Homo sapiens: one gene and its partners. The protein of the gene in region 5 purifies or fractionates together with the protein of the main gene of each other region. This does not show direct contact. Each region holds a gene or a part of one and is shown on either strand. Other genes may lie near its edges. The genes, in order: PPP1R15B, AKT2, BMPR1A, ABHD6, FSHR, GJA1 and UPK3BL1.

The links.
Region 1: the proteins of FSHR (region 5) and PPP1R15B purify together in Homo sapiens (affinity purification with mass spectrometry; one large-scale study listed by BioGRID and IntAct). This does not show direct contact.
Region 2: the proteins of FSHR (region 5) and AKT2 purify together in Homo sapiens (affinity purification with western blotting, with the first as the bait; one study listed by BioGRID). This does not show direct contact.
Region 3: the proteins of FSHR (region 5) and BMPR1A purify together in Homo sapiens (affinity purification with mass spectrometry; 2 studies listed by BioGRID and IntAct, with this or other methods). This does not show direct contact.
Region 4: the proteins of FSHR (region 5) and ABHD6 purify together in Homo sapiens (affinity purification with mass spectrometry; one large-scale study listed by BioGRID and IntAct). This does not show direct contact.
Region 6: the proteins of FSHR (region 5) and GJA1 purify together in Homo sapiens (affinity purification with mass spectrometry; one large-scale study listed by BioGRID and IntAct). This does not show direct contact.
Region 7: the proteins of FSHR (region 5) and UPK3BL1 purify together in Homo sapiens (affinity purification with mass spectrometry; 2 studies listed by BioGRID and IntAct, with this or other methods). This does not show direct contact.

The regions. Positions count from the first base shown.
Region 1 is NC_000001.11:204,402,881-204,405,849, forward strand, and holds the end of PPP1R15B (protein phosphatase 1 regulatory subunit 15B), read right to left. Parts: 3' UTR 501-2,969; downstream 1-500. UniProt on the Homo sapiens protein: Maintains low levels of EIF2S1 phosphorylation in unstressed cells by promoting its dephosphorylation by PP1.
Region 2 is NC_000019.10:40,240,346-40,243,845, forward strand, and holds part of AKT2 (RAC-beta serine/threonine-protein kinase), read right to left. Parts: intron 2,343-3,500; coding exon 2,189-2,342; intron 1,725-2,188; coding exon 1,593-1,724; intron 1-1,592. UniProt on the Homo sapiens protein: Serine/threonine kinase closely related to AKT1 and AKT3. All 3 enzymes, AKT1, AKT2 and AKT3, are collectively known as AKT kinase.
Region 3 is NC_000010.11:86,763,119-86,766,618, reverse strand, and holds part of BMPR1A (bone morphogenetic protein receptor type-1A isoform 3 precursor), read right to left. Parts: intron 1-3,500. UniProt on the Homo sapiens protein: On ligand binding, forms a receptor complex consisting of two type II and two type I transmembrane serine/threonine kinases.
Region 4 is NC_000003.12:58,272,292-58,275,791, reverse strand, and holds part of ABHD6 (monoacylglycerol lipase ABHD6), read right to left. Parts: intron 1,135-3,500; coding exon 977-1,134; intron 1-976. UniProt on the Homo sapiens protein: Lipase that preferentially hydrolysis medium-chain saturated monoacylglycerols including 2-arachidonoylglycerol. Through 2-arachidonoylglycerol degradation may regulate endocannabinoid signaling pathways.
Region 5 is NC_000002.12:48,987,016-48,990,515, reverse strand, and holds part of FSHR (follicle-stimulating hormone receptor isoform 1 precursor), read left to right. Parts: intron 1-1,461; coding exon 1,462-1,539; intron 1,540-3,500. UniProt on the Homo sapiens protein: G protein-coupled receptor for follitropin, the follicle-stimulating hormone. Through cAMP production activates the downstream PI3K-AKT and ERK1/ERK2 signaling pathways.
Region 6 is NC_000006.12:121,438,646-121,442,145, reverse strand, and holds part of GJA1 (gap junction alpha-1 protein), read right to left. Parts: intron 1-3,500. UniProt on the Homo sapiens protein: Gap junction protein that acts as a regulator of bladder capacity. A gap junction consists of a cluster of closely packed pairs of transmembrane channels, the connexons, through which materials of low MW diffuse from one cell to a neighboring cell.
Region 7 is NC_000007.14:102,639,992-102,644,247, forward strand, and holds the start of UPK3BL1 (uroplakin-3b-like protein 1 precursor), read right to left. Parts: upstream 2,801-4,256; 5' UTR 2,751-2,800; coding exon 2,639-2,750; intron 783-2,638; coding exon 621-782; intron 424-620; coding exon 213-423; intron 1-212.

The DNA of each region.
Region 1 (2,969 bases), on a different chromosome or scaffold from region 5:
GGCCAACATGATGAAACCCCATCTCTACTAAAAATACAAAATTTAGCCGGGCATGGTGGCAGGTGCCTGTGATCCCAGCTACTCGGGAGGCTGAGGCAGGAGAATCGCTTGAAACCGGAAGGTGGAGGTTGCAGTGAGCTGAGATCGTGCCACTTCAATGCAGCCTGGGTGACAGAGGCTCCGTCTCAAAAAATAATAATAATAATAATGCACAAAACAGAGATTTCCCTGCTACTTAAGCACTAGGCTAAGCCCAGCATCTGAATGTTATTGCTTCTGTGAATACCCAGTTTAATTTTCTTTGCAGCAAAACTGAAAAGCTAGGGCCAATTTCAGAATCAAATCTTCAGTTTCTTAGAAGGGCCTCTCATAATACTGCAAGAACCAAGTTCTTCTATTACTAAAATGTTGTTTGCAATTATACTAATCCTGCTTAGTAATTCCAAAACCATTGTAAAATACTATGATACATATAATATAAAGTTGAACCAAAATATCACTTAACATTTAATAATTGCAAATATATTTATTACAATTTACAGATTAGTTATGTTATATACACAAATATAATTTTAACTATAAAATCCCAACTAGTTACATTTAAATTATTGATCTGTAGAAGCCAATTTAGAGTCTTCTAGTCCCCTAACTTTACCTTCCTTAAATTATACAAAAATAAAATCTGATAGTTTTGATTTCAAGTTAAAGATGAAGAAGTGTTACATTTCATCACTCAGAAATGGAACTTTTACCTGTCTGTACAAAGCCTTTTACATGCTACATTGACACTTAAAGCACCATTAACAAGACTTTAAATGTATAAAATGTTTAATTAAAACCTCCAAAGATTTTCTCTTTAAGATTACGGGGGTTTAACTTTGTTCTAACTAGAATTGGGATGAAACAAGAATTTTGCTTTTTTCTCCTTCAGTCCAACTTTAAAATAGTCCTTTCTGTCCTTCTTATCACCTTCTGATCACTTCTTCCAAGGAGGCTAGTATATGGAAGAACTCTTAATCAAGCTTTCACTCATTTGGTAGTGAGGTTAGAATCCCATGGGGAACAATTTTCCAAAATCCAATGAAAGATGTCTCATTATTTTCAAATACACAGAGGTGCTAGGTTTAAGAAACAGGAAACACAACGTTAAGTCTCGGAAATAAAATGTTTCAGCCTGGTTTTAAAAGAATGCCTGTATGTTGTCAAAAGGCTTTTTTCAAGGCAAATGACGCCTGCTTTCCAACCGACATTGCTGTTGCTTGAAACTAGCCTGTTTTCATGTTATTAGACCATCCTGTAAATGTGCTCCCTATGATTACCTAAAGTGGAGGTGCACAAAACACACAGAATCCCAGCACTTTGAGAGGCCGAGGCGGGCGGATCACGAGGTCAGCAGTTCAAGACCAGTCTGGCCAACATAGCGAAACCCCGTCTCTACTAAAAAGACACAAAAAATTAGCCGGGCGTGGTGGTGTGTGCCTGTAATCCCAGCTACTCGGGAGGCTGAGGCAGGAGAATCGCGTGAACCCAGGAGGCGGAGGTTGCAGTGAGCCGAGATCGCGCCACTGCACTCCAAGCTGGGGGACCGAACGAGACTCTGTCTCAAAAAAAAAAGAAAAAAACAAAAAACACACAGAATAAGGGCTCTGCAAAAATTTGACCAGCTTTTATAGTGTTGCATTCTCAATGTGTTTAATTATGAATATATAAACAGTGGAGGCAGTTCTTAGAACTGGATAGAAATAAAATAATGACCAGGTAGATTGTAAACTGAGGTAGTAACCCTGTAAGCACTTCTGATGAAAAATTCATCCCCACACTTAAATAAGTTCAAAACTAAGAGGTCACCTATTCTACTTATGTTTTCCATTACCTGTGACAGGAAGCACACGGAATGAAAGCAGACCACGGAAGGGTTAACAACCCCTCAACCTAACTTATGTGTACCTTGTAAAGCTAAACAAATAAACCAAACACAAACAGTCAATGCAAAGACTTCAATTCAAAGTAACCTTTGGGCTAAATATATTAAAACTTTCCAGTCATTAATCTATACTTCTATCCTTTCCTGAAAGTAAAGGCCTTGCCATTACTTCTCTCATTATTAAATAGTAGGACACAATAAACCTGGATATTGACTGAAGTTTATATTTTACATTTCAAACGTGAAAATTCAGAACTGCCCATTTCCAATTTTACAGTGGGATCCTGACAGGTTTTAAAAGTGACAGTGCTGAGGCATGATATTCATTAACACTGGTTTTCTGTTGAGAACATATACACCAAAACCAAATTGCTCTGAGATGTCTCCTATTTTCTTTCTAGGAAATTTCTAGGCTTTTAAGTTTAAAAAATAAATGATTATGATGTAATTATTACTTTCCAGAGTGTTTTGCAATAACTTCAACCTGTTAAGAGATACAAAGAACTATATTAAACTGGGAACTACAATAACGTACACAGAACCCTCTTCAAAGAAATTAAATATATTAGATGTTAAAATGTGGTAGAAAGATGCAGCTTTCCCAAAGTAGTAAAGTACTGCACATATGGGTTTTGTGGCAGTCCTTGGAAATATCCTAGGTAGAACTTAATGTAGAAATAAAAAGGCTACCACATATTTTCAATCCAAGTCATTTTTACAAGAAAAAAAAAAGTGACACAAAATAATGCACTTTAAGTTGGTAGCATACACAAGGTTATTTTTTAGCCTAACATAGACAGGCCAAATCATTGAAATAAAAAAAATATAGAAAAACATAAAAGCCCATTAACTTCTGAATTTTGGGAAAGAAACAAGAAAGAGCCCAAAGTTTTCAGATAGGCACACATAATTTAGATTAGAAATGAAAATGGGCTTTAAGCCCTATAAATATTGTTTTCCAAGAAAATAAGTTTTGAAAGTGCAAAATGACAACTCAAAAAGGTCCCCTTTCCACCTCATGCAGGCAAAGGACATTTAAAAGCAC
Region 2 (3,500 bases), on a different chromosome or scaffold from region 5:
AGGACCAGGCTGCTAGGGACAAGACACCTGTGACGTCCCTGCAAGGGAGACAAACAGACATCACGAGAGCCCCGAGGTGCCACCACAGGCTGTGGGAAGTCCCACCTAGAAAGCATTCTTGCCCAAAGAAGGAAAAACAGTGCTTCTTGGTGTGGTCCCCACACAGCACCTCAGCACCGCCTGGGAACTGGCAGCAATGCAAATTCCTGGGACCTACCCCCAGGCCCACTGAGTCAGAAACTCGGGGTGGGCCCAGCACTGTCTCACAAGCCCTTTGGGTGACTCTAATTCAGGTTCTAATTTGGTACCTGACTGTACAGCAGAACCACCAGGAGTGGTTCCAAAAATCTGGAGCCACCTGCAGCAACGTGAACACAGGCTCTCTCTGGGGCAAGTTTATCCCCAGGGGACACCTGAGAATGTCTGAAGTCTTTTTTTTTTTTTTCCCTTTTTTTTTTTAGCTGGGGGTCTGGCTCTGTCGCCCAGGCTGGAGTGCAGTGGTGTGAACATGGGTCACTACAGCCTCAACCTCTGAGGCTCCACTGATCCTCCCACTTCAGCCTCCTGAGCAGCTGGGACTACAGGTGCACGCCACTATGCCCAGCTAATTTATTTTTATTTTTACAGAGACAGGGTCTTGCTTTGTTGCCCAGGCTGGTCTCGAACTCCTGGGCTCAAGCGATCCTCCCACCTCAGCCTTCTAAAGTGCTGGAATTACAGGCGTGAGCTGTGGCGCCCAACCCAAAAGTCATTTTTGATTGTCACAACTTGGGGAGCTAGTATTGGCTTCAGTGGGTAGAAGCCAGGGGTGCTGCTGAAACCCTAGAATGCACAGGGCTGCCCCGACAGCGCAGAATCATCTGTCCCAAAACGTTAACAGTGCTGAGGCTGAGGAAGGCTGCCTTAGGCCCAATCGTCACATCAGGAATGAACAGCTAATTTGGTTGGCTCTGATGGCAGCACCACATGATTATATTCTTTACAGTCTTCATCTGTCAGGACACATGTTCAAGTATGGATGAGTGAAGTGACGTGTTGTCTAGGACAGGCCTTAAAGTATTCCAGAACAAGAGGGACAGGCAGAGCTAAGGAAACAAGGCTGGCTAAACGCTGATAACTGGTTAAACTGGACAATGGCTACATGGGGGTCCGTAATATTTATTTTCTTTTTAAATTTTTGAATGTCTTTGGAATCTTCCACTACAAAAAATTCAAATAAGGGAAAAAGTAGAATTCCACTCCTGGCCCGGCCTCCACCTGGGATACCCTGAGCAAAGCCCGGGACTCCCCAACAGCGACGTCCTCCCCAACAGGCCCCAGCCTCCCTTGACAGTACCTGCTGGGTGGGGCCCCGAGGCTCTCTCTCTCCACAGGCACCCCCAGCCCCTAACATAGGGTGGAGGTGGGGACTCAGCAGCAAGGCCTGCTGCTCCTCTCTGGGCCTCAGGCTCCCCCTTTTCTGACTAGGGGGAATTTGTGGGGGAAATAAGCCCACAGCAGCAGAAAGCGCGGGTAAGCGTCCAGGCCTCAGGGTCAGGCTCCAGACCGCAGCCCCCACAGAGGCTCGCGAGCGCAATTCCCGGGGCACGCACCTTGGCAATGATGACTTCCTTCCGCAGGATCTTCATGGCGTAGTAGCGGCCAGTGGCCTTCTCCCGCACCAGGATGACTTTGCCAAAGGTTCCCTTGCCAAGGAGTTTGAGATAGTCGAAGTCATTCATGGTCTGCCAGGGACAGGGAGAGTGGGGGCAGTCAGCGCCTGGCTCATGGCCCGTGGGAGGAAATTTTAACAAAAGAAAGAGGAAAACCAAAAGACACTGTTGCCAAACGGCTTAGGCTGGAGCAGGAAGGGAGGCTCTGGGCAGCAACTGTGTGTTCTGAAGCGGCCTTCAGACCAGGCTCTGCAGGCACAGGGCCTTGGGAGGGCTGGGCTCTGACGTGGGGGTAGCCAGGTCTTCACCAACTCCCAGGACGAACCTGCAGTGGGTCCACCCAAGGTTGCTCCCTCCCCTACGGGCATGGAGCACACCCTAGGGCACCTGCCACCTGAAATCACCCCACCCTGCAGGGCAGCCTTGTCTCTCAGCTGAGCCCCCTGAACTGTGTTATGGAAACCAAGGAGAGCAGGCCAGCACTGGGGGTGGGGGCACCGCAGGCTGGCAGCCCCACCCCTGCTCCCAGCACTTACCACTTTAGCCCGTGCCTTGCTGACCGCCACTTCCATCTCCTCAGTCGTGGAGGAGTCACTGGGGGAGCCACACTTGTAGTCCATGGGGTCCTCGCCTGGGGCCCGCTGCTTGAGGCTGTTGGCGACCATCTGGATGGCCCGCATCCACTCCTCCCTGTGCAGGGACACACGTGAGTCCCAGCAGCCAGGAGTCCTGGGCCTCAGAGTCGAACAGCTGAGTGCCACCTCCCAGCCACCCCCAGCAACAGGCAAGCAAATGACCACATAACCATGGGAATTTGGGCAAGATCTGTCAGAACCAGAGAGAGCTGAAGGGACCTGAGTGAAATTCCACGCCAGGCGCAGTGGCTCATGCCTATAATCCCAGCACTTTGGGAGGCTGAGGCGGATGGATCACAAGGTCAGGAGTTCGAGACCAGCCTGGCCAACATGGTGAAACCCCGTCTCTACTAAAAATACAAAAATTAGTCAGGGGTGGCATTCGCCTAATCCCAGCTACTCAGGAGGCTGAGGCAGGAGAATTGCTTGAACCCGGGAGGCGGAGGGTGCAGTGAGCAGAGATCGCACCACTGCACTCCAGCCTGGTGACAGTGCGAGACTCCGTCTCAAAAAAAAAAAAAAAGTGGAATACCAAGAGCGATCACCAATTTCCCTAAAGTGACCTGGCCTGAGGGCCATTTGAAGCCAGGCAGCAGGGAAATGATCAAAAAGGAGTGACCCTCTCTTTTCACAGCCCCTTGAAAATGAGCCACCACCCTGAGCCTTGAATGAGGGAGAGAGAGTGCTCCTGTGAATTCTTCGGAACAAATGACAAGCTCAAGTTTATAAGTTACCAATGTTTTGTAAAGTTAAACCAAGAGTAAGAAGCAGCATTCATTAGCCAAAGGAGCTGAAGACACTGCAAGGCAAGAGCTGGCCCGCAGGACTCCCTGGAGGGGACAGTCCACTGGGAGCAGGGAGTCTGCATGGCAGGGACAGAGGTCCTGGCAGCCCAGGGATGTAGAGGAGAGAAGCTGGTGGACAAGAAGTAGGTCCCAGCAGAAGGGAGCCTGGTTTAAGAACAGTTAACTAGAGGCTAAGCACTGTGGCTCACACCTGTAATCCCAGCATTTTGGGAGGCCAAGGTGGACCAAGTGCTTGAGCCGAAGCGTTCAAGACCAGCCTAGGTAACAAAGCAAGACCCATCTCTTAAAAAGTTTTTAAAAAACAAAAATAAAAAATAAAAACAGGCCAGGTGCGATGGCTCACGCCTGTAATCCCAGCACTTTGGGAGGCCAAGGTGGAGGATCACTTGAGGTCAGGAGTTCGAGAC
Region 3 (3,500 bases), on a different chromosome or scaffold from region 5:
AGACTGATATGATTATGTTGGGAGGAGAGAACATATTCAAATACTGTTGGCTGGAATATGAATGGTTACGAAGATTTTGCAGGGTGGCTTGGCACTTTCCATCCAATCTGCACGGCTTCTCTTATAGTAAATGCATTTCTAAGAATTCATTTCATAAAATAAAAACAGTCTCAAAGGATATGTACAAACACCACAGCATATTTGCAATGCAAAAGAAAAAAATGGAAATAATCTAATTATTCATTAACACGAAACTGGTAAGTAAAATTAAGGTATAATCAGAAAATGGAATAACTGCTTAACTACTATAAAGAATGAGATGATTAAGGCTGCGCACAACACCTCACACCTGTAATCTCAGCACTTTGGGAGGCCTAGGTGGGAGGATCACTTTAGCCCAGGAGTTCGAGACCAGCCTAGGCATCATGGTGAGATCCCACCTCCACACACACAAAAATTTTTTAATTAGCTGGGCATGGTAGCATGCACCTCTGGTCCCAGCTATTCAGGAGGCTGAGATGGGAGGATTGCTTGAGCCCAGGAGTTGGATGCTGCAGTGAGCTGTTTGCACCACAGCACCACTGCAGCCTGGGCAACAGAACAAGACCTTCCCTCAAAAAAAAAAAAAAGAATGAGGAAATTGAAATTTACTGACATAAAAAGAATCCCCCTATATATTCAGTGAAAATAAATTTAAAGATAAGGATGTATCGTATGACCCCATTTTAGGAAATGGGGACAGAAAAAAAGAAAGAAGGCAACAGAAAAGAAAATTTTTTCTAGCTCTATACTTTCAACAGTGGCAATCTTGGGGCACAGGTGAAGCATGATTACAGAAGACTTTCATTACTTCATTTCTGTATTGTTTGAAATTTCAACCACAAATATGTGTAACTTCTGTTAACAGAAAACACACAGTTCTATGGTAATACGTAGTTAGGGAAACTATACTAGAGTTTCACCATGTGTATTAGCATATTAAAAGTTCTGAGAAGGTTTGTAGTAAAGAAATCTAATATACCAAAAGATTATCTTCAAATAATGATGCAGCAAAGAGCCAACTATGAGGCTTGGACCACTGAGGAGGGCTTCATAGGAGAGAGAGGAATATTCTTTTTTTTTTTTTTTTTTTTTTGAGACAGAGTCTTACTCTGTCGCCCAGGCTGGAGTGCAATGGTGCAATCTCGGCTCACTGCAACCTCCACCTCCCAGGTTCAAGTGATTCTCCTGTCTTAGCCTCCTGAGTACCTGGGATTACAGGCGTGCCACCACACCCGGCTAATTTTTGTATTTTTAGTGGAGATGGGGTTTCACCATGTTGGTCAGGCTGGTCTCGAGTTCCTGACCTCGTGATCCTCCCGCCTCGGCCTCCCAAAGTGCTGGGATTACAGGCGTGAGCCACAGCACCTGGCCAAGGATTTATACTAGATTTTAAAGCATTCTGATGGGCAAAGAACCAGGGAAAGGAAAGTCAAAGGCAGTACTGTCCAATATGACGTGTAATTTTAAACTTTCTAGTTGCCACATTTAAAAAGTAAAAAGAATCCTGTGAAATCAGTTTTGTTTTTTTAACTGAGACAAGGTCTCACCACGTTACCCAGGCTGGTCTCAAGCTGCTGGGCTCAAGCAATCCTCCCACAGTGCTGGGATTACAGGCATGAGCCACCATGCCCGGCCAAAATCAGTTTTAATATATTTCTTTAATCCAATGTATCCCTAACAGTATCATCTCACTATATAACCAATATTTTAAAAGCATAATGAGATATTTTACATCTTTTGGTACTATCTTCAAAATCTGGTACGTAATTCACACTTAGACTAGCCACAGTTCAAGTCTTCAACAGCCACATGTGGTAGTGGCTATCTATTGTAGTGGACAGTAGAGGTCTAAGGATTCTGAACCCAAACCTGAATCGGATATTTACGTGACTTAGGCTGATAAAATAGTAGGAAAGGAAGCAAAGCAGAAAAGGCTGACTTGGCCAGAGCAGGAGACCAGTCCAAGATATTCTGGATTTTCTATTGTAAGCAAATAAGAAAACAGGGAAAAATATTTAACAAATAGGGATGATGACCAAAGCAGTACTTCAGAAAGATTAACAGTTTTTGCTAAAATATACACGTACAACTTCAACATGCAATTTTTCCCCCACATTTTTATTAAATAAAAGATTATAAAATGAAGGAAGAATAATCTGTCACCCAGCGATTATATTTCATTGATTTGGTATACATTTAAGATACTTCTGAACAGTTACCACTGAAATATTTTTATTTCATGACATTTTTAAATGATTCTTGAAAAATGCAGACATTAAGAGCCTCACCAAAATTTAACAGCCTTTACTTTAATATTTTCTAACAAGAGCTTCTTTTAGCCAGGAATCTAAAACATTCTTATATACAAATTTAAAACACTCAAGACCCTATACTCTTGAAATACATTACAAAGCATTTTAATTACTAGTAAGAAAACTACCTACAAATCTTAATATACATAAAACAGTATCAAAACTATCCAAGTCAGCCAGATGTGGTGGCTCACGCCTGTAATCCCAGCACTTTGGGAGGCTGAGGCGGGAGGATCACGAGGTCAGGAGATTGAGACCATCCTGGCTAACACGGTGAAACCCTGTCTCTACTAAAAAATAGAAAAAATTAGCTAGGCGTGGTGGCGGGCTCCTGTGGTCCCAGCTACTCAGGAGGCTGAGGCAGGAGAATGGCGTGAACCCGGGAGGCAGAGCTTGCAGTGAGCCAACATGCGCCACTGCACTCCAGCCTGGGCGACAGAGCGAGACTCCGTCTCAAAAAAAAAAAAAAAAAAACAACTATCCAAGTCTCCTACAGATTTCTCACCTTCAAAATTGAGAGTCTATCTTCTCAACATTTTGATACTTTACCCAAAGGCTAAAGAAAAAAAAATTAATGCTCAAAAAAGGAGGTAAGAAAGCAGGATACGGGAAGGGCACCGCAGGCATAAGCCATACTCCCTTTGGTACTTGCAAGGACTGCCAAGGCTGGCGTGATTCTTCAGCCAAAAGTCAGAAGTCCAGTGATGTCATTAGGACCAAAAGCATTATATGACCTTCAATTTCGGCAGCTAACTGTGCTGCAAGTCAAGATATTTTCTTTCTTTTTCTTTTTTTAAGCAGAAAAATTATCTTAAAGTTCACCATGTTCCTTCTATTTTTTAAGATAAAGAAACGAAGATTCGGATTGGGTTAGTGTGGCATCCGTGATTGAATAGGTACTCAGTAGTAAAACCAGTATCAGACATTATTTATAAAAAATTAGAAGCTGAAACTTAATCATTCCGCTGCTTCTTTATGGCTTTTTATACTTCCCAAATTACCCACAATAGATGTATTGCCTTTAAAATTTTTAAAAAGCTGCAAAAACTGCTCACTTTACCGAATACTTCTGGCCGGGCGCAGTGGCTCATGCCTGTAATCCCAGCACTTTGGGAGGCCGAGGTGGGCGGATCACGAGGTCAGGAG
Region 4 (3,500 bases), on a different chromosome or scaffold from region 5:
GGGGAAGGATAGCATTAGGAGAAATACCTAACGTGAATGGTGAGTTGATGGGTGCAGCAAACCAACATGGCACATGCATACTTATGTATGAAACCTGCAATCTGTGCACATGCACCCTAGAACTTAAAGTATATTTAAAAAATAAAAAAGAGGATAAGGGGTCCTAGCCAGGTGAGGTGGCTCAAGCCTGTAATCCCAGCACTTTGGGAGGCTGAGGTGGACGGATCACGGGGTCAGGAGTTCGAGACCAGCCTGACCAACATGGTGAAACCCCATCTCTACTAAAAATGAAAAATTAGCCAGGCGTGGTGGCGCACACCTATAATCCCAGCTACTCAGGAGGCTGAGGCAGAAGAATCGCTTGAACCTGGGAGGCAGAGGTTGCAGTGAGCCGAGATCATGCTACTGCACTCCAGCCTAGGTGACAGAGTGAGACTCTGTCTGGAAAAAAAAAAAAAAAAGAGTATAAGGGGTCCTGAGATTTTTTTTTTTTCAATTGAGTATCTCTGATTTAGCCCCTGCCTCCCTTTCTAACTCCATCTTCACCATTCTCTTATTCTTGGGGCTCCAGCTACCCTGGCTTCCTTTGTCTTGAATATGTATGTTTTTCCACCTCTGCATATGCTGTCCCTAGAAGAGGCTTATCAAAGCCACCCCTGCCTCCCCGTATTCAATCACTACACCATCTTCATTTCTGCTATAAAACTCATGACCACTGGTAGTTCATTGTTTACTTGTTATTGTCTGCCTCCCCCACTGGACTGTGTCTGCCCAGGGACCTTCTTGTCTTTATTGATCACTGTACCAGCACAGTGCCCAGCGTGTTGCAGGCACTGCAGAGACACTTGCTGAATATATGCAGAAGAGGACAAGAAGTAGTCAATGAGTAGGTGAAGGAGGGAATACGTGCAGGAAGCTGGTACTCGCCCCCGGGCCTCTGGGGAGGGTAGTTGTGTCGCTGCTGCAACCACGTTACCTGCTGGGGCACCTTGAAGCGGACATAGGAGCAGAGCTGAAGCATTTCACTCATCTCTTCTGGGGTAGACGGGATCAAGGGAATCTTCTCCACGGCGGCAGAGCCCTGCAGTTCTTTGAGCCGTTGTACAAATTGATTGTCAGTTGAGTACTGCAGGCCTGTGGGATTCAAACCCAAATGGCTTGATGATACATCCACCTTCTTACCAATCCCATTTTATATAGGGAACTTCTGACAGCAGCCCAGAGTTAATATATTTCAGGTTTATTTCATGAGTAGATTTCTTTTTTGTTGGTACTGCCATCCTTGCTCAAATCAAAACCACACTGAGAAACACACAAAAAAATCCTTCCACATATTTCAGGGACTGGTCACTCACACTGTAGTCCATGGACCAGGAGCATCAAAAGCCCACAAGAAATGCAGACGCTGCTCCTCCCTGAGCCTCTTGAACCAGAATTTGCCTTCTTACAAGTTGCCAGGGGATTCATATGTATGATAGAATTTAAGGAGGGTTAGCCTAGAAGACAACTTGCCTAAGCATATCTGAGTGTTGACAGGAAATGTGAGGAAATACATGACCGGAAGAAAACATAGGGCTGGCATGAATGACACTCCTTCCCTTGGCCTGGACCCACGTGGTACTCTCTTATTTGGGGTCAATGATAAAACACAGGGGGACTGGGAGTCTTCCCAGCTGTCCCTTGCTTTAGGGCAGCAACCCTGCTGCCTTCTCCACAGTTGCTCTTCCTCTAGGAGAGCAAAATTGAGATTGCTCATTATCTCCCATCACCTCAGGGCACGACACGAGAGTCCACAGAAGCTGATGCTATGTATGCAAGAGGGCAAAACTAATTTTCACTTCCAGCATGGAGCAAATTTCTAGGCATTTAGCTTAGCCAAATAATTAGATTTTTTTTTCTTTTTTTACTTTAAGTTCTGGGATACATGGGCAGAACGTGCAGGTTTGTTACATAGGTATACATGTGCCACGGTGGTTTGCTGCACCTATCAACCCGTCATCTAGGTTTTAAGTCCCTCATGCATTCGGCATTTGTCCTAATGCTCTCCCTCCCTGTGACCTCCACCCTCTGACAGGCCCCAGTGTGTGATGTTCCCCTTTCTGTGTCCATGTCTTCTCACTGTTCAACTCGCACTTATGAGTGAGAACATGCGGTGTTTGGTTTTCTGTTCCTGTGTTAGTTTGCTGAGAATGATGCTTCCAGCTTCATCCATGTCCTTGCAAAGGACATGAAATCATTCTTTTTTATGGCTGCATAGTATTCCATGGTGTATATGTGCCACATTTTCTTTATCCAGTTTATCATTGGTGGGCATTTGGGTTAGTTCCAAGTCTTTGCTATCGTAAATAGTGCTGCAATAAACATATGTGTGAATGTTAGATTTTTTTTTAATTTTATATTTTTGCAGAGATGGGGTCTCCCTTAGGCTGGTCTTGAACTCCTGGCCTCAAGCAATCCTCCTCTCTTAGCCTCCCAAAGTGTTGGGATTACAGGTGTGAGCTACCTCACCCAGCAAAATCTAGAAAAGAGCTAGATTTTATAATGAAAGGCAGTAGCATCAATAATATTGGTCGTGATGCAGAAACCCACGCTTTGCAAATCTATGTCCAGCAAACCCTTTAAATCTAACATGGGTATGATGTATGGCTTTCACGATGCCATGAAGCAGATGACATTATCTATTTCCCCTCTCTTTAAAACTAAACCTAGGTTAGATGTCATGTGGTACATCCTGGACTGGATCCCAGAACAGAAAAAGGACATGAGTTGAAAAACTAAATGAAATCCAAATAAAGCCTGGAATTTAGTTAACAGTAATATACTAATGTTGGTTTCTTAGTTGTGAAAAAATTTACTGTGGTAATGTGAGCTATTAATGGGGAAACTGAGTATAGGTTATATGGGGCGCTCTATAATATCTCTGCAATTTTTCTGTAAATTAAAAATTATTTCAAAATTTTTAGAAAGTTTATTTTAAAACTCTTGGTAGGATATAATCCTGAATTTATTTCTACTTTTTAGTTTTCACATACAAACTTAATTTTAAATTTCCAGTTGAAATTCGGATGTCAATTTTTTCTCTGAGCAAATGAACCTATACTTGAAAAAGCCAGTTAGATTTTACTTCCTGTAAGTGATTTAAAATCTAAAAACCTTCCATAGATGCTGTTCCTTCAATTCTCAAACTTATTATTATAAGATCAAATTATTTCAGATATGCTACTTGAAAAAAGAGAGGAGAAGACCCTTTGGTGTCTTCTCTTCGATTTCAATGTCCTCAACATATCGAAAATGATTAGCTTTCAGAGTGGCAGAAGGATTTTAAAGGTCAATTTAGTTAAGTTTCAGTAAAAGTCATTAAATGTTCAATTCATGGCTGGATTCTAGTTGAATCATACAGAGGAAGTAGAAGATATGAGTCATAAAAAGGAGGCAGTAAATATGCAAGGACTTCCAAACATCACAGCTTGGGTTCTGGAGTCAGGCAGCCTGGGCTCTGT
Region 5 (3,500 bases):
GCCCAACGGCTATCTGGGCCTTTAATATGCATTGTGTAGTCTACATCCTCCAAATGTATTGCTCTGGGTTAGCAAAGATAGGGAGGCCAGAAGTGAGGTCCTTGATTTTACCTGCAGGCCAGTCAATATTAGTTTGGAGGAAACTGAAAGACCCTTCAATAAGAGTATTGTTCACAAAACCAGCATGTAGCAAAATCAAAAAGTGGCTCATTTTTTCACTATTTAGCGCTTTAATTACTGCCCCCCACACACATAAACAACACCCCCTGTATTCCAGCATCCTCTCCTCTTCTTTCTAGAATTGCTATGCTGCCCTGGGCACAAAGAAACTATCTAACAAACACATTCATATTAAAGAGTTAATGACAGGCTGTGTTTGCCTTTTCCCAAGGTATTTGTATTTTGAAAAAGGAAGAGAAAAGGTAGCATATAATGGCAACTATTCCCAATAGTGAAATTGTAAGAATATGGACAGATCCAAAAGGAGGAGATGGGGAAGGGGTGTAAGGAGCTAAGCAGAGAGGAAGGAGATAAGCAGGGAGGGAGGAGAGAAAGAGGAAAATATGAAAATCTTTCAGAATTTCTCAAATTGTTCCAAGCTGTTTACTACACTACTTGTACAGCTGTTACTTCCACATTTACTTCTCCATATTAGATCAGACCTAACAGGGAAGGTTGACGGGGGAAATGAGGAATACAAACAGAAAATGAGAGTTTCCTCATCCTTTCATTCAGGAAAAGAAAAATCAATGATAAAGCCATTCTGAGACCCAAGGAGAACAGGCAGAAGGAAACTAGCTGTAAGAAGGGGATTGACATGAGGAGAAGGCCCAACTAAGATGAACAGAGAAGTTAGACAAGAGGTGAAAGGTCAGCTTAAGTGTTTGTTACATTAGGGTGAAATTATTTAAGAAAACCTTCAGAAGAAAAAAGTAAGCCATGCACAGTGGCCAGTGGCTCTAATCCAGTACTTTCGGAAGCCAAGGCAGGCAGATCACTTAAGCACAGGGTTTGACACCAGCCTGGGCAACATGGTGAAACCCTGACTTTACAAAAAATACAAAAATTAGCTGGGTATGGTGGTGCACACCTGCAGTCCCAGCTATTCTGGAGGCTGAGGTGGCAGGATCACTGGAGCCTGGGAGGTTGAGGCTACAGTGAGTTGTGATGGCACCACTGCACTCCAGCCTGGGTGACAGAGCAAGAGAACCTGTCTTAAAAAAAAAAAAAAAAAAAAAAAAAGACACTGAATGTCTGCAATTCCATTTGTAAGAACATACTAAAGATAAATTAGAGACAATTTTTTCTCCAAACTTTGAGCTGATCATCTTCTAAACAACAACTAGTTATATTAATACATTACCTCAGCTGAAGACCGCATCATGCCAGTTAAACTAAATTTTGGAAGGTTACATGAGTAGAGCTGATGTAAGTATCTTATTTGTCTGTACTTTCTTCTAGTGACATTCAAGATAACATAAACATCCACACAATTGAAAGAAATTCTTTCGTGGGGCTGAGCTTTGAAAGTGTGATTCTGTAAGTAAGGGGGAAAAAATCCAACAGAGTAACATTTGATTTTTCATTTAGTGATCTCTTTCTCATAATTGGATGCTCCTTTTTTGTTTGGGTAACTTTGGCATTTCTCCACTTAAATCACTCTCCAGTTCTGCGTTCCTCTCTCATCTTTACATTTCAGAATCACAATGTGGAGTCATGTTAATAATTTATGATTCTGGGGTGTGATTCAAGTATTTAAAATTGCTGTTTGAATGATGATCTCCTGTGATACAACATCTGTTCCAAAGGAAAGAATAACTCATGCATCAATAAAGCTAGTTATTGCCTGGCAAGGCTTTTGTTGCCCAAAGAAAAAGATCAGGAAGGAGGCCCAATCAGGAAGATATGGCGATTCCCTCATAACCATGCCAAGCAGTTCCTGTTCAGGCCCATGCTGAGCATAGGATGACTTCTCATTTTCTTGAAACAATCACATTTTTTAATGAGCTTGAGTTACTCTCTCTGACTTTTGGGAAATCTCTTAAAAGCATTCTGTGTTGTTAGTGAAAGACCTTCTACTCTTTTATGCCAGTAGCCCCTGTAGCAGTTTATCCACTCACAAGTATGGCCAAGAAATAGGACACTATGGGCTATCTAAGTATGCCTGGGATCCATGAAAGTTAGATGCACAGAATGACATTTGGGGACCCAGCAATTGCACTTACATCTGTAAGATATGAAAAGCATTTTATCTATTTTACAAACTGTTGTGTTTTTAAAAAAATATACCAGTATGAGTTTTTAAAATATGCCTATATGTACAAAACATAAGTTCCAGTCCATAAAGAATTTTAGCCCCCTTCAGTTGTATGATTCAGAGACCAGGCTGTTGAAAGAAAAAAGAAATAGTAGACAGATTATAACACTTTGATGAGTAAAGCTAAGCACTGTATTTGATGTAAATTAATCACAGATAACAATGGAAAAAGTTTGAAAACAGATTAGCATAGAAATTGAATGTATGGAGGGAACAATAAAATTAAATCAAAGGAATGTATTCAAAATACATAGATATTAGGACAAAAGCTATAGGTGAGTGATACTGAATCATTTCACATAAGCTCATGATATTTGAAGTGAAGGGGTGTGTGTGTGTGTGTGTGTGTGTGTGTGTGTGTTGAGATGAGGTGATGGGGTGCAGAAAGGGTAAGAAAGAGAAAGCAAAAGGAATAAACTAAAACGCGAGCAGAATGAATGATATACAAAGAAAAAAAGAGCAATCATTCTAAGAGGAAAGAAGGAATGATTTAATCTCACTAGTCTGTGATGCGAGGGTTAAAGGAAGAGTTAAACAAGGGAAAGGAAGCTAAGAAAAAGAGGTTGTTTTTAAAATGGGCTTTTAAAGATGAGCAGTAGTTAGCTAGGGAATTGGCAAAGGGCGTGCAGAGGGAACAGAATAATCAAGACCAGGAAGAGCACCTGCCTTTTATAAAAATAAAAATAATCAGGTGGGCGTGGTGGCTCATGCCTGTAATCCAAGCACTTTGGGAGACAGAGGCAGGCAGATCACGAGGTCAGGAGATTGAGGCAATCCTGTCTAATACAGTGAAACCCGTCTCTACTAAAAATATATAAAAAAAAAAAATTAGCTGGGCATGGTGGCAGGCATCTGTAATCCCCTCTACTCAGGAGGGTGAGGCAGGGGAATCGCTTGAACCCGGGAGGCAGAGTTTGCAGTGAGCCAAGATTGCACCACTGCACTCCAGCCTGGGCAACAGAGTGAGACTCCATCTCAAAAAGTAATAATAATAAAATAAAATAAATAAAAATAATAATACAAAGAGCTTGTGGAAAATAGTGAATACATGAGTCATATTGGCCTGCTGGATTGTGAAACAAACACAACAGTAAAAGGATTCCTGGGTTACTTCACAGAGGGAGATTGGTGATAAATGTAAACATTTATACCTAGATGTTTATGTTTATTTGGATCTTTCTTG
Region 6 (3,500 bases), on a different chromosome or scaffold from region 5:
TCCAGCATCTTTTTATGATTGAAAGAAAAGAGAAGGTGAAGGACTTTAATATCTGAAAGAATAAAATCAGAGTCTAAACCTACATAAGGAAATGTCTATGGAAGTTCCCGATAAAATCATTTAATGGATTTTTTGGGAGGAAAGGGAAATCATGTGTGTGTCTAATGTACTAACACCCAAAAATATTCATGCCCAAAAACTCAAATGCAAACCCTTGTAATGTTTTCTTTCACTTTTATAATAACCTCTGCCCCTCCAGTAAATGTCATTGAGTGAACTCAGTTGTCTATTCCTCCGCACTTAAAACAGCCACCCTTAGCTTGATCTCAGCCATCATCAGTTTGCTAGGTTTCATGTCATTAGCCTGGTCACCCTACTTGCCAACCTATACTCCGAGTAATCAGTCAATCTTGAGAAAACAAACCAACAATCAGCTTGGTTTGATGAGCTCTGCTCCATCCACGCAGCTCACGTCCTCACTTGTTGCAGGTCTCACCTCATCAGCCAACTTTCCTGACCACCAAATATGAAATAGCAACATCCTTTCCCCAGTCCTGTCATTTCCTATTCCCTTTGCCCTGGTTTTTAAAAAATTATTATTTTAATAGACTTTCTCTCTACTTGATATAGTAAATATTTGCCTGATTACTATGTACCTCCTTCCATGAGAAGGATTTATTATTTGTCTTCCTTAACTGGAATGTGAACAATACGAGGGAGTTTGCTTTGTTCACTGCTGTATCCCCAGTGCTTGAAAGAGTAAGAGATGTGGCTCACACCTGTAATTCCAGCACTTTGGGAGGCCGAGGTGGGAGGATCATCTGAGGTCAAGAGTTTGAGATCAGCCTGGCCAACATAGTGAAATCCCATCTCTACTAAAAACACAAAAAAGTAGACCGGGTGCGGTGGCTTAAGCCTGTAGTCCCAGCACTTTGGGAGGCCGAGGCGGGCGGATCACGAGGTTAGGAGATAGAGACCATCCTGGCTAACACAGTGAAACCCCGTCTCTACTAAAAATAAAAAAAATACAAAAAAATTAGCCGGGCGTGGTGGCGGGCACCTGTAGTCCCAGCTACTCGGGAGGCTGAGGCAGGAGAATGGCGTGAACCCGGGAGGCGGAGCTTGCAGTGAGCCGGGATCGCGCCACTGCACTCCAGCCTGGGCGACAGAGCGAGACTCCGTCTCAAAGAAAAAAACGACAAACAACAACAACAACAACAACAACAACAACAAAAAAGTAGCCAGGCGTGGTGGCGGGTGCCTGTAATCCCAGCTACTCTGGAGGCTGAGGCAGGAGAATTGCTTGAACCCGGGAGGCGGAGGCTGCAGTGAGCAGAGATCACACCACTGCACTCCAACCCGGGTGATAGAGTGAAACTCCGTCTCAAAAAAAGAAAAGAAAAGAAAAGAATTAATTAATTGGGGTATAGCTACATGTTAAATGAATTAAATGGGGCTTCCACAAAAAATAGAAAGATACTGTGCAAAAAAAAAAAAAAAGTTTGTTTTTTTCTGTCTCTTTGGGATTCTCTTAATTGTAGTTATATCTCAAATTTCTAAAGTTTCAAATTAATTAAAAAGGAAACTTCACAGTAAAAAACTATTGTCATCATCTCATTCTCATACTGTTAAATTTTCAAGTGACAATTGCTGAAACAGAGAACTGTTTGTTGAAACAACATGCTTCAAATGATTCCTGAGCAGGCAAAAGAGCTAAATTAAGAAAAAAGGCTCTTTGCAACCCCCACTGCTAAATTTGACAGGCTTAAAAGAAAAAAGAAAAAAGGCTTTTTAACAAAGAGCTTCCTGAATTTGTTAAATGAGATCCTAATGAGGGTTAGGATTCTTGTAGAACTGCATCAGGTATCATGCTTGTACATTCAGTTCACTGTTAGGTTGTTGCAGGTTAAGATTTAAAACACAAAACAAAAAAAAAAAGGAAAAAACACAACTGTGTGGTTGTCCCCTAGTTCTACGATGTTCTAACTCCGATTGCACCACACAATTTTATTGTAGACAAGGACACTATTACAAGAAGAAATAGCCTGTTTAAAATCGTGTTTATTTCAAGAATGATAAATATCGGGGAAGGCTAGGGCTCTGAAGGGGAAGAGCAGCAGTTGATATTAACCCTGGTTAATGTAACATCTTTACAGTCTGAGTCTATGCAGGCACTAAAGTGATTAGATTCAAGTACCATGGAAAAGATTCCCAGTTCATCAGATAATACCCAACCTTTACTTCCTTATTTATACCTAGATGGCCTAACTATAGTGTATCAAACTTACTGTATGTAAAAATATATTTATAAATAATTGCACATTTGTGTAGGTATTTGATGTTGTGAACTGCTTATTTTGGGGGCAGAGGGGAGGACAACATAAAAACACCAACAAGCCTTCCTTCCCCAGCTCTTACCCCTCCTCATCACTGAACTTACATTAGCATCCACTTAATGAGATGAGATGGGAATTGAGGTGTGAGGAACTCCATCCAAAGAGAGGATGGTGCATCCCATAAAAGACAATCCTCTCCCTAGTTCAACAGCTACTACTCAATTCTCCCCCAAAACAAGTTTCTCAAGATCAATTTAGGGCTACCAGAGAGAAAATCCCAAGTCAGAAGCTGAGGCTAAAAGCCATGTTCTTCAATTGTGATGTAACTTAATATATTTCTATCAGTCCTTGGCGTTTCCTCTGCCCCTACTCTTACTTCCACCTCCAAATTGACTATTTTTAGTGAATAGCCTTGTTATTTTATAATCATATAAAGACACCCTTAGGGCCCTCACAAGTGTATTGATTAAGATAGTCTATTTTTTTCAATGAGAATTTAATAAATAACTCATGCATGTGATGCTCTTAGTAACAGCTCAGTAAAGTTTGGTTCTTACTCTTTAGACGACCTTTAGATATAGCTCATTTGGTTTTAAATTTTTCATCTTTTCTTTAGCAAAACAGCAACTAAGAAATGATTGACAAACATACATTTTCTTTTTAAAATTTTTTTTTATAGAGGTGGGGTCTTGCTATGTTGCTCAGGCTGGTTTTAAACTCCTGGCCCCAAGCGATCCTCCCACCTCAGCCTCTCAAAGGGCTAGGATTACAGGCATGAGCCATCATGCCCAGCTGACGATAAACATATATTTTTCTTAAAATATTATTTTAAAAGCATAGGGAAATTGGAATGTGAAATTTATGAAATTGTATAAGCCACTGATGTATTAAAAAAAAAGAGCTAACCACAGTTTGAAAATAGGTAAAAGACAATCTGTACATACATAGTTAAAAGGTGACTTTAGATGGAGGTTTAGACAATTATGCTAAGAATTTAAAAAATATATACATTAATCTCCCATGGAAGAGATGCTCTGGAGATTTTTTAAAACTTGAATTATCCATACAGAATATTACATTAATAATAAACACTAGATAATTACTTTTTCTCTCCAGAGTTGAACTGGTGTGTGCGGATAAGCTCCCACACATCTCTTCAAATAA
Region 7 (4,256 bases), on a different chromosome or scaffold from region 5:
AAAAGGAAAAAAAAAAAAAAGAGAAGAAGGATAATTCATGTAATTCATGAAGGCCTCCCTAGCCCCTGCCTGCTGCTTCCTCTTCCCTTTGGCCAAGCAGGAGCAGGGGACCCAGGCATCCTGCTGGGGCCCTGGTGAGCCTCGTAGGAGCTGCCCCAGGCTCCGGCTTGGGTGCATGCGGGCAGGAGCCAGGGCCTGGCAGAGCTGCTCACCTGTAGGGGCCGGGTCCTGGTAGGGGATGGTTGCAGCCAATTTTTGTTGGTTGGCAGTGGGTATCATTGCCGACGCGGAGGACATGGAGCTGGCCTCTGGTCTGGTACAGCACCCGGTTGGCCCTCAGTGTGAGATAGTAGCCCCTCTGGGAGAAGTTGGCAGGAGCAGGGATGTCCTGGTTTGTCCGTGGGGCCGTGAAGCTCTGGGTGGCTAAGGGTGGCACCATGGTCAGACAGGTCACACAGCAGGATCCCACCCTCACCTTACCAAGCCTGACAGCCCTCCCCGGCCCCATCCCCTGCAGCACCTGCTCCCTGCATCTCCCTGCAACACACCCGCTACTGCCCTTAGGCCCGCAGGCCCATTTCACATAGGGAAAACCGAAGCCTGGCCCCAGCAGCACCCACCGTTGCTGAGGGCCACCACCAGCCAGATGGTATCCAAGTCAGAGATGTTGTGGCTGCTGAACTGGCCTAGAGGCTGCTCCAGCGTGAAGGTGGACAGGGTGAGCCTCCCCGCCAAGGTGTCGTTTGAGAGCTGGGGCACATAGCTGATGTGCTCTGGGGCAGCTGGAAGGGGAGGGCAGAGAGGAGAGTCCAAATGGGGCAACCAAGCCCCAACAGCTCTGGTCTCCCCCCGCCCAGATCCAGACTTAACATGGGAGCCCCAAGTTACGGGCACTTCCTGGGAGGTCAGGTCCGGTATGAACCAGGAAGCTTTCCCGGCAACTCTATGCCCCATGGGCATGGGTGGGAGGCCTGAGTCCAGCCCCTGGCCCCTCTCTTAGGAGCCTACTGGGGGTGGGCACTGTGGGAGGTCTAGGACAATGGTGGCATGGGAGGTCCCACCCTGGCGGTAGGCACAGTTCTCCTGGGCCGGGCCATGTTGGGATGGAACTGGAATTTGGGGGCAGCCTGACCCTAGGCTGAACTCTGTTCCTGACATGCCCAGTGACCTCCAACTTAAGTCCCTCCAGCTCCACCCACATGGTCTAGGTTGTTTTGCTTGATGAGAGGATGCGTGGCTTGGCAGGGGTCGGGGGGATGGCACAGGAAGGTCCTCTTGGCTGAGACCCCAGGCTGGGACACAGACTGCCCAGAGGGTCCGGGGGCTCTGGAGCCAGAGCTTGGTTCCGAGTGAGTCTAGAACGTCCTCTTCAACCTGCCTGGTTCTCTGCCGCCTCCCAACATGGCCCCGAGGCATCTTCGCCTTCAGGACCAGGTCCCCCTCTCAGACTCCCACCTCATCTCTCTGGGGAAGGGTGGGGGACGAGGACAAGCTTCCCAGGTCTGTACCCCAAAGGGGACTCAGGATTGGCAACTTGGCCTGTGTCCAGCCTTGCTGGTTGGAGAGCTCAGACCTCCCCAACCCCAAATACTGGTCTAGGAGAAGCAGAACGATGGAGTGGGTTTCTATGTGAGTCTCCAGCAGCTGCCCCTGTTCAGTTCAGTTCAGTTCAACTTCATTCATTTACGTTGAATTCAACTCAACTCCAAAGGTTCAGGCTAGAGTCTTCCTTGGGGAAGGATTGTCACGATTCCTTTCTTACAGCTCTCAGTCCTATCTCTGAAGCCCAGGGCACTCTGCGTGCAGGAGGCACGTAATGTTTAGAAAGAGAAGTGGAGGCCGGGCGCGGTGGCTCACGTCTGTAATCCCAGCACTTTGGGAGACTAAGGCGGGCATATCACGAGGTCAGGAGTTCGAGACCAGACTGGCCAATATGGTGAAACCCTGTTTCTACTAAAAATACAAAAATTAGCCAGACATAGTGGCGCACGGCTGTAATCTCAGCTACTCAGGAGGCTGAGGCAGGAGAATTGCTTGAACCCGAGAGGCGGAGGTTGTGGTGAGCTGAGATCGCGCCACTGTACTCCAGCCTGGGTGACAGTGGGAGACTCTGTCTCGAAAAAAAAAAAAAAAGAAAGAAAAAAAAGAAAAAGAAAAAGAAAAAGAGAAGCGGAGCAGTCAGAGATTGGGGTTGGGGGCAGAGATTGTAGGACTGTATCTCTCAGCCTGTCCAGTTTTTCTTTTCTTTTCTTTTTTGAGACAGGGTCTTGCTGTTTGGCCCAGGCTGGAGTGCAGTGGCGCATTCATAGTTCACTGCATGGGCTCAAGCCATCCTCCCGCCTCAGTCTCCCAAGTAGCTGGGATTACAGGTGCACTCCACCACACCCAGCTAATTAAAAACAAAAATCTTAAAAAAAAAAATCTTTTTGAAAAAAGGGGTCTTGTTATGTTGCCCAGGCTGGGCTTACCAGAGCTTCCTGGGGACATGCATTGTCCTGGACATCTGGAAACCTCTCCTCAGGGAAAGGAAGGAGGCAGGAGCCATGTGTGAGAATTTGGAAACAAAGTGAGGTCTTGGGTTTGTCCTGCAGCCTGAGATGCAGCGGGTACCCCTGTGCCAATCCCCACCCTTACTCACCCACGTCTGTCCCAGGCTGGACACGGGTCAGTAGCAGCAACAGCGACACTAGCAGCTGGGACTGTCCCGCAGAGAGCCCTATGGCCGGGCCAAGCCTCCAGCTGTTGTCCATCTGTCTGTCCGTCCGTCTGCAGTGTCTGCAGCCCCAGAGGCTCCCCTGTCTGTAGTCTGTGCTGTGCTAGGGGAAGCTGTTCCTGGCATCTCCTGCTGCCCCTCCCAGCTACCCCCTCCTCTCAAACAACTGGTTGGACAGGTTTGGGGGCAGAATCTGCCAGCCCAGTGAATCTGGCATCGCCAGGGAGGGGTCTGAAGAGAACATACAGTTGCAAGACAAGCCTGGACTACCCCCCCCACCCACCAGGAGCGCCTGACCAGGGAGGGGCTGAGGAAGGAGGCGGGGCAGCCTCAGGATCCAGGCTGCCCCAGGGACAATCCCGCTAAGTCTACCCCGTGGATCTCCTTGTCCAAACAGTCCCCAATGTAGCGACTCTTCCTTTAGGACCTGAGGTGGGAGGATCACTCGAGCCTGGGAGGTTGAGGCTGCAGTGAGCCAAGATGGCACCACTGCACTCCAGCCTGGATGACAGAGTGGGACCCTGCCTCAAAAAAAAAAAACAAAAAACAAAAAACAAAAAACCAACCTAGGAGGAGTTGGTGTCTGTTTTTGGTTCATAGGGAGTGCCGCTCAAGCAAACTCCCTGGAGTCTCTTTTATTTATTATTATTTTTTTTTGGGGGGGGCAGGGTCTCACTCTTTCGCCCAGGCTGGAGTGCAGTGGTGCGATCATAGCTCACTGTGGCCTTGACCTCCCAGGCTCAAGGTTCTCAGATTCTCAGGCCCCACCCTGGGGAAGGATGGAGGATGAGGACAAGCTTCCCAGGTCCACATGACAGAGGGACTCAGGATTGGCAATTTGGCCTGTGTCCAGCTTTGCTGCTCAGAGAGCTCAGATCCCCACCCTCAATTCACTCCCTTGTGTGGAAGGGAGTGACCCTCACTTTCTAGCACACACAGGGAAGAGGGCTTGGCTAAGAGCACCCAGGAGGTCAGGGCAGGACTGGGGATTAGATCACACCCAAATGCATCTCTGTGGCACTCCTGGTATAGCCCTGCTGTCCCCCTGTAGCCTGGCCCTGGGAGGGGGGCTCCCAGACTTCACACCCCCTCACCTCTTTATCCAGGGGACCGGCTGTCTCTTCCTCCTTCATCCCCAGCCTCTGTCAGGGCAGGGTAGTTCCTCCTCGAGACAGAAAATTACCAGATGGAAGTCCAGGCATGGTGGCTCACGCCTGTAATCCCAGCATTTTGAGAGGCCGAGGTGGGTGGATCACCTGAGGTCAGGAGTTCGAGACCAGCCTGGCCAACACGGCGAAACCCCATCTCTACTAAAAATACAAAATTAGCTGGACGTGGTGGCTTGTTCTTGTAACTCCAGCTACGCAGGAGGCTGAGGCAGGAGAACCACTTGAACCCAGGAGGCAGAGGTTGCAATGAGCCGAGATCGCACCACTGCATTCCAGCCTGGGCAACAAGAGTGAAACTCCCCCTCAAAAAAAAAAAAAAAAAAAAAAGATGAGATGGGGCTCAGGGCAGGTGGAGCGAGACCTGTGACCACCTC